2 separate regions of the Homo sapiens genome follow, and region 2 is linked to region 1. The links come from fine-mapping of genetic effects on gene expression. Tissue or cell type: whole blood. Region 1 holds a variant in brackets; the other region holds the start of a gene. All regions are shown on one strand. Distances are between the middles of the regions. Region 1 overlaps LOC102724495 (a long non-coding RNA gene). Region 2 holds the start of LSM8 (LSM8 homolog, U6 small nuclear RNA associated).

The links.
Region 2: it holds the start of LSM8, and the variant in region 1 is fine-mapped to the expression of LSM8 in whole blood (TOPMed, PIP 0.99).

Annotation. Positions count from the first base shown.
Region 1 is chr7:118,266,327-118,271,723 of GRCh38, reverse strand. All of the region lies in intron 1 of LOC102724495 (a long non-coding RNA gene), which reads right to left. Among named protein-coding and RNA genes, the nearest start is that of ANKRD7, 44 kb to the right of the region's middle. The variant G/A (reference allele first, on the strand shown) is at 2,111.
Region 2 is chr7:118,181,534-118,186,930 of GRCh38, reverse strand. It overlaps LSM8 (LSM8 homolog, U6 small nuclear RNA associated), which reads right to left and starts at 2,767. Exons shown (of 4, transcript NM_016200.5): 1 at 2,677-2,767; 2 at 1,237-1,277. The coding sequence starts at 2,707. LOC105375470 (a long non-coding RNA gene) reads left to right here and starts at 2,963. Exons shown (of 4, transcript XR_927904.3): 1 at 2,963-3,016.

The DNA.
Region 1 (5,397 bases):
GGGACATTATATAATGACAAAGGGCCTGTCCAACAGGAAAATATTCCAATTTTTAGTATATATGCGCCTAACACTGGAGCTCCCCAATTTATAAAACAATTACTCAAACCTAATGAGATAGCAACAGAGTAATAGTGGGGAACTTCAATACTCCACTGATAGCACTAGGCAGATCATCAAGACAGAAATTCAACAAAGAAACAATGGGTATAAACTACATCCCAGAACAAATGAACTTAACAGATGTTTACAAAACATTCTACCCAACAACTGCAGGATATACATTGTATTCATTAGCACATGGAATGTTCTCAAAGATAGACCAATGATAGGCCACAAGACAAGTCTCAATAAATTTAAGAAAATTGAAATTATATCAAGTACTCTCTCAGACCACATTGAAATAAAACTGGAAATCAATTCCAAAAGGAATCTTCAAAACCATGCAAATATATGGAAATTAAATAACCTGCTCCTGAATGACCATTTGGTCAACAATGAAATCAAGATGGAAATTGAAAAATTCTTTGAACTGAACGACTATAGTGAACAACCTATCTAAACCTCTGGAATACAGCAAAGGCGATGCTAAGAGGAAAGTTCATAGCGGTAAATACCTACACCAAAAAGTCTGAGGAAGCACATATAGACAATCTAACGTCATAACTCAAGGAACGAGAGAAACAAGAACAAACCAAACCCAAACCTAGCAGAAGAAAGGAACTAACCAAGATTGGAGCAGAACTAAATAAAATTGAAACCAAAAAGAAAATACAAAAGATAAATGAAACAAAAAGCTTTTTGTTCTTTGAAAAGATAAATAAAATTGATGGACCAATAGCAAGATTAACCAAGAAAAGAAGAGAAAATCCAAATAAGCTCAATTACAAATGAAACGGGAGATATTACAACTGACACCACAGAAATGTAAAAGATTATTCAAGGCTACTATGCCTCCACCCAAAAGCTACTTAAGCTGATAAGCAACTTCAGCAAAGTTTTAGGATACAAGATCAATGTGCAAAATTTGTTAGTATTCCTATACACCAGCAACAGATAAGCAGAGAGGCAAATCATGAACAAACTCCCATTCACAACTGCTACAAAGAGAATAAAATACCTAGTAATAGAGCTAACAAAAAAGTGAAAGACCTCTTCAAGAAGAACTAGAAACCACTGCTGAAAAAATTCAAAGAAGACAGACACAATCAAATGGAAAAGCATTCCATGCTCATGGATAGGAAGAATCAATATCGTGAAAATGGCCATACTGCCCAAAGTAATTTATAGATTCAATGCTATTACCATTAAACTACTATTGACATTCTTCTGAACTGGAAAAAAAGTATTTTAAAATTCATATAGAACCAAAAAAGAGCTCATATAGCCAAGAGAATCCAAAGCAAAAAGAACAAAGCTGCAGGCATCACACTACCTGACTTCACATTATACTACAAGGCTACAGTAACCAAAGCAGCATGGTATCAGTACAAAAACACATTGACCAATGGAACAGAATAGAGAACCCAAAAATAAGAGCACACAGCTGCAACCATCTGATCTTTGACAAACCTGACAAAAACAAGCAATGGGAAAAGGATTTCCTATTTAATAAATGGTGTTGGGAAAACTGGCTAGCCATATGCAAAAAGTTGAAACTGGACCCCTTCCTTACACCTGATACAAAAATTAACTCAAGATTGATTAAAGACTTATATGTAAAACCCAAAATTATAAAAACCCTAGAAGAAAACCTAGGCAATACCATTCAGGACGTAGGCATGGACAAAGACTTCACAACGAAAACGCCAAAAGCAATGGCAACAAAAGCTAAAATTGACAAATGGAATCTAATTAAACTAAAGAGTTTCTGCATCTCAAAAGAAGTTATCATCAAAGTGAACAGACAATTTACAAAATGGAAGAAAACTTTTGCAACCTATCCATCTAAAAAAGGTCTAATATCCAGAGTCTACAAGGAACTTAAATAAATTTACAAGAAAAAAAAATCATTAAAAAGTGGGCAAAGGACATGAACAGACACTTCTCAAGAGAAGACATTCACACGGCCAATAATCATATGGAAAACAGCTCAACATCACTGATCATC[G/A]GAGAAATGTAAATCAAAACCACAATGAGATACCATCTCATACCAGTCAGAATGGTGATTAGTAAAAAATCAAGAAACAACAAATGCTGGCAAGGATGTATAGAAAAAGGTACACTTTTGCACTGTTGGTGGGAATATAAATTAGTTCAACCATCGTGGAAGATGGAGTGGCGATTCATCAAAGATCTAGAAGCAGAAATATATTTGACCCAGCAATCCCATTACTGGGTATATACCCAAAGGAACATAAATCATTCTATTATAAAGATACATGTATATGTATGTTCATTGCAGCACTCTTCACAATAGCAAAGACATGAAATCAACCCAAATGTCCATCAGTGACAGACCAGATAAAGAAAATGTGGTAAGTATACACCATCAATATTATGCATTCATAAAAAGGAATGAGATCATGTCCTTTGCAGGGACATGGGTGGAGCCGGAGGCCATTATCCTCAGCAAACTAGCACAGGAATGGAAAACCAAACACTAAATGTTCTCACTTATAAGTGGGAGCTGAACAATGAGAATACATGGACACATGGTAGGAAACAACACACACTGGGGCCTGTTGGGGGCTGCAGGGAAAGGGAGAACATCAGGAAGAATATCTAATGGAGGCTGGGCTTAATATCTAGGTGATGGGTTGATCTGTGCAGCAAACCACCATGGCACACGTTTACCTAGGTAACAAACCTGCATATCCTGCGCCTGTACCCTGGAAATTAAAATAAAAGTTGAAGCAAAGTAAATAAATAAATACATAGTTAAACTCCAGATTAGAAGAATTTATTTGCAAAATGAAAATATGACAAAGGGCTAATATATAGGATATATAAAGAATTCTCATAGCACAATAATGAAAGTAAATACATAAAAACATAAAATATATAAATAGCTCACAAAAGAAAACATATAAATGGCCAATGAGTGGATGAAAAAGTGATCACTACCATTAGTCATCAGGGAAATACAAGTAGAACCACTATTGGAAGCCTCTACAAGAACAAACCTCTACACGAAAAAAAACACAAGAACGGCTAAAATTAAAAATATAGACAATACTAACTGATGGTGAGGATGTGGAGCAACTGAAATTTTCATACATGGTTGGTAGGAATATAAAAAGGTAAAAACACACAGTTTCTTATTTAAAAATCAAAACAGCCTTGAACAGATACGATCATAGCAGTTTATTCATTATACCTGAAAACTAGAAACTTCTCAGATCTTAATCGGAGAACAGATAAAATGTGGTAAATTCTATAGTGCAATACTATTCAACAAGACAAAGAAAATAAGTATTAACACATACAACATTGATGAATCTCAAAGCAGTATGTGGAGTGAAAGTAGCTTTACCCAAAACAGTAAATACCACAATTCAATTTATGTAAAATCCTAGAAAAGGCAAAACTACTCCAGCCAGAAAAAAAAAAAAAAAATTGGTGGAGAAGGGGGATTGAATGGGAAAGCAAATGAAGGAATCCTTCTGAGCAAAGTTCTGTATCTTGATAGGGTTTTGAGTTACACAGTTACATGTATTTGTGCGTACTCATCTCATAGTATACTTAAGATTTGGACATTTCGTTTTATATAAATCTCACCTTAAAATATATAAACGTAAATATAAAAGTCTAGTTAATATGTGCTCTTAAATATTTGAGAGAAATTAGTTGAGAGGAAATACTGATGTTTGTAACTTACTTTGAAATGCATTAATAGAAAGGACTGATGGGTGGATATAGGGCTGTATAGATGGGTAAGTATGTGATAATGCAATATATAGAATAGAAAAGCCTAGGTAGAGGGTAAATATAAATTCATTCAAATTTTCTTAATGTTTGAAAATTTTTTTCAAAAATAATGAGATAAAAAAGGCACTTACAGAAAATGTGATTTTTACGTGATTTTAAAATGTTTCAGTATGACATTTTAAAGGTGATGGGGATTTGGTCATAAATTTAGAAGAACTTAGGTTTCAGTGCCAACTCAACTACCTTCCATCTGTAATTTTATATGCAAGTTACTTTGCCTTCCTCAGCTGTGGTTTTCTATTCTATAAAATGAAGATACTAACACTTGAGCAACAGAGTTGTAAAGATATTTACCTAGGAGAGAATACTAGCCCTTTGATAACTACAGATTCCTCATCATTCCTCAGTGTTTCTTATAAAATGCCATTCCAGGGAACACCATGCCCATGGGAAAGATTTTTGTTGTGAGTTACAATATTTGACCTTGTGGACTTCTAATAATCTCTTTCAACTCTAGGATTTCATGTTTGGACATGTCAGTGAGTCCTAAGTGAATTTCTTACATTTTTATATAGGGTCTCTACATTTATTTTTCTTAAGATATGGGCATTTCATTGTATACAAATATTACCTTAAAATAAATATGAAACTCTAGTTAACAATATGCATGCTTTAAGTATTCGAATATAAGCACTACTTACCAGGACATTATTGAATTTAATGTTATATACCCATTCCACTTCCTAATGATATGAAATGCTGCACACTGCTTTAAAAATCTGCAGTGAAATTGCATCAGCCCCAAAAGAACGAAGTAAATATACTTATTAATCTTATACTTAATTTATAAACTTTCTTCTCAAGGCTATTTAAGCTATCAAAGGCACTTTGAGGAAAATATCATTGATAGAATGGAGGAAGCTTAAGCTCTGGAAAATGAATCCACCTATAAATCTCCACAACAAGAAAAAAACTCTAAGATTTATTGGCTGGTAAAAGGAAAAAAAAAATGTTATCAGGTCCAAAATGAATGTTTACATATATATATATATGTGTGTGTGTGTGTGTGTATATATATACATATATATGTATGTATATATATACATATGTATATGTATGTATATATATACATATGTATATGTATGTATATACATACATATGTATATATGTGTATATATGTATATACCATACATACATATACCATACATATACCATATCTGTATATATGTATATATGTATGTATATATATACATATGTATATGTATGTATATATATGTGTATATGTATGTATATATATACATATGTATATGTATGTATATATATACATATGTATATGTATGTATATATGTATGTGTATATATACATACATATATATGTATGTATAGTTTTTTTCATTCACCACAAAAACTTGACTCTGACACAGAAATGATTGCTCAAAACTCCTTTGAATGAGCTTACATGAGAAATACTCACTTCAGGCTTCACCATCATCATGGCTACCATCAATTATAGCTCATTACACTGACT
Region 2 (5,397 bases), 85 kb after region 1:
AAAATAAGAAAATTTAAACTTAAGGTTTTCACCAAATTAAAAAAAAATGCAAATATCTATTAACAGCAATAGGCTTCCTGAAGTGTTGAAATTAAAATATGTCAAACTGTCCATATTTGAAAAAATACAATGTGAGGTGCCTAAGCAAACATCATTGCTTCCTTAAGAAAGAAGCCAGGCAACTGGCCTTGGCTTTGATGTCAAACCAAATTTAAATCCCAGTTTGGTTCTGTCACTTGCTACCCTTGTGACTCTGAGAAAGTGAGTCACCTTCTCTGAACTTGTTTCCTAATCTAGAATACAGGGGTACTTATTCTTCATAAGTTTTTACTGTACATTAAATAATGTAACATATATGCACCTGGCACATGATATAAATTTAGTAAAGGACAAAGCTAGAACTTTGACTAATAATAGTCACTAAGGACCCAGTGAAAAAAAATCACAAGGCTTAAAAAGAAAATGAACAAAAGCAAAACTGAAGAATGGAAAAATAAGGGATCAAATTATTTAAAGAAACTAGGTAAGGTTAGAAAATAGAGAAAGTTCAGTAGCCTTAAAATTCTTTTGAAAGCATTCAAAGTATGAATTGTAAGTGAAGAAATAACCAAGTACCCAAAAATCTTGAGATGAATTCCTCAGATCAAATTCCAAATACAAGTATCACTATAGGAACGTTTTATCTTAGTTATATGACATAAATTAGCAAGGGAGAAACAACTTCAAGGAACAAGCCAATTTTACATATATATGTGTATATATAGAGAGTCAATCATCATAATGTGTCCTACAGAAGACATGTCACACAACCTAAAAACAAAGAATATTAAGATTGTATACAAGCCTTAAATGTTATCTAGATATTAATAGTATCTAAATCATTAAAAAGTTACTAAGCATATGCAAAATTTCAAAAAAATTCTGATTCATGTGGTGCTGAATGGGGAAGGAAATAAAAATGGAAGAAGAAAAGTAAGTTTAATAAAGGTCTACAGACTAGGAGCTCTCTGAGGGCAGAATCTATTATTCTAGCTCCGAGAAACCTTGTAGGTAACACACAATGTTTATTAGTGAGGAAAACATGGATTGACAGCAAAGTGATAAAGAGCTGAATTATAATAAAATTGCACTACGGGTGTAATGTGCTGTCTAGGCATTAGAGATTAGAGGTTTCACATAAAACTTGCAACCAATAAACCTACAGGAAAGCAGAGAATGAAAATTCCAAAGACTTACCACAATCATTCTCCCATCTGATGTAATAACGGCAACAGTTCCTGATAACTGAATCAAAGAAAGTGTTTCTTAGGGAATGCAAATTGAAAACAGACTCTGGCAAGGGAATGATTTGAATTTTTAGAATAAATATGACAACTAGGTATAAGTATTCAACACAGCCACTAAGTTCACTACATAAAAACGTTAAAAGTTTCTTAGACGCCAAGGCAGGAGGATCACTTGAGGTGAGACCAGCTTGGGCAACACAGCGATACCCCCATCTCTATTACCCTGGCCTGGTGACCTATAGTCCCAGCTACTCAGGAGGCAGAGGCAGAGGCAGGAGGATTGCTTGGGCTCAGGAGTTCAAGGTTGCATTGAGCCATGATCAAGCCACTGCACTCCAGCCTGGGCAACAGAGTGAGACCCTCGACTCAAAAAAAGAAAAAAAAAAAAAAACTTAAAAAAAGCTTCTGTTTTTGTCTTTGTGATAATTACATGATTAAAAAAGGGAAAAAATAGAAAAAGAAAACCTCTTTCTGTATGTGATCGGTGTATCTTATCTCAAAATATCCTGGATTTTTGACACTTTTCTACTAGGAAGGTTACCAATCTATTATTTCAGGCAGGATATTTCGTTTCTTAGGCCTGTTTATTTCTAAAATGAAAAGTGGATGAGTACTAAATTAATCGATGTTGGACGATTTTCCAGCATGTTAAAAAACTGTCTTCCAGGACAGGCTTCTGTAATTCAAAAGTAAAGAAACTATATAAGCAGTGTCACAGGGTACCAATAACGCATCATTAAAAGCATTCGGTATTTAATTTTTGTCACCCAGTTTGTACCTGAGCTTAACGTAGTGTTTTTGTCCTAAGACTTTAAAACGGTAACACTTGTAAAGTCTATTTTAAGACTTCCCATGGGGTTGTTACTTGCTCCTCACTATAATCCATTACAACAGCAACCATTTTTTTTCATTCTACCAACAAGTTGGGACTTCAAGTGGTAAAGGGACAGAAACAGTCTGTGAACCATCGTTAAACTTTTTGCTATCCTCGAACGAGCAAATTATGTGAATAAAACAAGTACAAAGATTTGCAAAACTGTTGTCGCCGCCAGGACGACTGTTCATCTTATTCACAAACTTTAACACTTATGCCATAGGGAAATAGTAAGTAAGAATCAAGAGCGTACATTTTTTTTAAGACAGAAAAGTTCGGAATAATCACACTGGGTTTTTATTTGGGTTTTGCAGGCAAAATGGAAAGGACCCCTGGGCCCGCAGCAGCGGGAAGGCTCGAGGCGCCGCCGGCGAACTCTGGGTCGTTCCGGGGCCCTCATCTCCTCGCCCGCCCCCAGGATCCCGCCGAGGCCAGGCCTCCCAACCTCCCACCGATCCCCGACCGCGGCCTCTCCGCGACCCCGGCTCACGCCCGCGGCGGCCAGCTTGAGGATACGGTTGATGTAGTTCTCCAAAGCGGACGTCATGCTGTTCGGCCCGGCGGTTCCGGGTAACGCAGCGGTGCCGACAGCAAGCAGAACTGAAAGGGCGCGCCAGAACCCGGCAGCGGATAGCGCCTGCGGGTCGCAGCAAATATCGTGAGAGTTGCTGCTCCGCAGCCCTGTGAGTCGGAAATTGGGACGAACTGGCCAACCAAACAGAAGCCGCACAGCGGTGACGAGAGAGTGCGCGTGCGCAGTGTGTTTTCTCTGTAATTCTGGGCCGTGTTCCGGAAGCCTCGTAAGACAAAAGCGAACGAGAGGCGGAAAAAAGGAAGACGCTTCCTGAAGTTGGGGGTATGAGACAGAAGTTGGGGGTATGAGACAGAAGTTGGGGGAGAGTGGGTTTCCAATCCGAGTAAAAGGCAGTGTGGTGGAAGTTAACAAGAGAAAATGTTGAGACGAGGTAGAGCAGGCAGGAATAAACGAAGTAAGGTGTTTTTATTAGGAGTGAAGGAGAGAGACGAGTGCTGTTGTGTGAAACGTAGGTGCGGGTAGTTGAATCCCTAGTTTTCTGCAGCAGAAGCCGAAAATAACGCTAAAAATAAGTTCAGTTGCCCGGGACAGAGTTGCGCACGTTATAACCACACGGTGTACGCCTCTTAAGAACTCAGCAGTGAAATACACTTTCGTATGTTCTGCTTTTGTCTCTAAAAGTGTTCCAAAATGGAGGTGTTTTTACTTTTTAAAGAAACTAAATGCAAATAGGCAAAGGTGTGTGACCATCCCTTAGAAAACGAATGTCCACGCTTCTGCCACGCCAGGATGGTCTACCTTTCTTCAGGGTGAAATTAGTAAGTAAAAGGCTGCTGCAGCACCGAGAAAGGACCGATGCAGGAAGGATGCAGGAAGGCACCAAACTTGGTTCTAATCTTGGCTCTGCTAACAAATTGGTGTCATTGCACAGGTCACTTCAATTCTTCTGGGCCTCAGTTTCGTTAGATAGTCCCATAGGTATCATTTCAGATATTTCCCAATGCGATACTGTTCCCACTTCATTTACTGTTGCCCTAACTTGAGAGAGCTTGAAGTTAGAAAGAGATTTATACACAAAACACCAGCAGGAGCGATTTCCCTTTTTTGCAAAATATCTTTATAATTTCAGTTAAACATGTATTTTCTTAAGATTTGTGGCTTTGTAATAACTCTTGCAATGTCAGCAGTTTTCCTCGGAAAAGGAAGCATTTCTTAATTAGAGCATACCCACAAGATACTCCCAAATAGTTAATATTTTATATTCTGGAACTTATTCCTATCTGTTTGAAATCAAATGTAGTCAGGAATTAGATTGTGAATGTCTCATATTCTCAGGGTAACAAATGAAAGTGTCTTCCGCTAATGAAAGAACAAAGATAATTGTGTGATTTGCAAATGTTAGGTGTTGAACCAAAACCCAAAGACTAATTAATGATTAACGAGGTGTTAGGAGTTTTGTTAAAAAAAGAAATTGCTGGGCATGTTGGTGGGTTCCTGTAACCCCAGCTACTCTGGAGGGTGAGGCAGGAGAATTGCTTCAACCCGGGAGGCGGAGGTTACAGTGAGCTGAGATCACGCCATTCCACTCCAGCCTGGGCGACAAAAGCGAAACTCCATTTCAAAAACAAACAAACAAAAAAACCTCTGTGTGATCTTATAAAAATGAGGCCGGGTGCAGTTGCTAACATCTGTAATCCCAGCACTTTGGGAGGCCAAAGCGGGTGGATCACAAGGTCAAGAGATCAACACCATCCTGGCCAACGTGGTGAAACCCCCTCTCTACTAAAATACAAAGATTAGCCAGCATGGTGGCGGGCACCTGTAGTCCCATATACCAGGGAGGCAGAGGCAGGAGAACCACTAGAACCTGGGAGGTGAAGTTTGCGGTGAGCGAAGATTGTGCCACTGCATTCCAGCCTGGGCGACAGAGCGATACTCCATCTCAAAAAAAAAAAAAAAAAATGAATACTCCCTATGGCTTTTCATCCCTTAGAGTGTGCTTTTGTAAGTCTATTGCCCTGTGTAGTTGTCATTAAATTAATATGCCAGATAAATAACAGATGAACAGTGTTTATGGAGCATCACAAAATCTCTTTGGCTGGAAACTTTTTTACATGTGTCTTAAAATCGCTATATTTTCTGTAGTCTGTAAGGATCACAGATGTAGCGAGAAAACCTATGGATAAATAAAAGTCGGTTTACTAAGACAAAATGAATTACATCTGGATGCAAACATTACATATGTGATTTATCTATATTAGCCATGTACCCTTGGGAGTACATGAATGTAGAAACCTTAGCATCTCATAAAGAAGAATTACATTAAAGCTCCAATAAGGGAAAACTGATACACATAAACATCTGACTACTAAAAAATTAAGAGTTAACAGTGAAACTTGCCCCTTAAGTCGAAACCTCTCAAAGTAATGCTCATTTAAATGACATTATATCACTGATAAAGTATCAACCAAAGTATGCTTGTAATAGATAATTTTATTCCATTACTTCTGAATCTAAATCTTGAGCAGAAAACCTTAACCTAAAGGATCAGACTTCTAGTAGAATCCTAGGAAACTGAATTTGCGCTTCTCTGAATAGTTTATGGAAAACTATCACAATAGCAGTTTTTTAAAATAAAATAATATTTTTAACCTTATGTGATGAGAACTTTTATTTCCTTTTACGCGTTTATGCTTTACTTC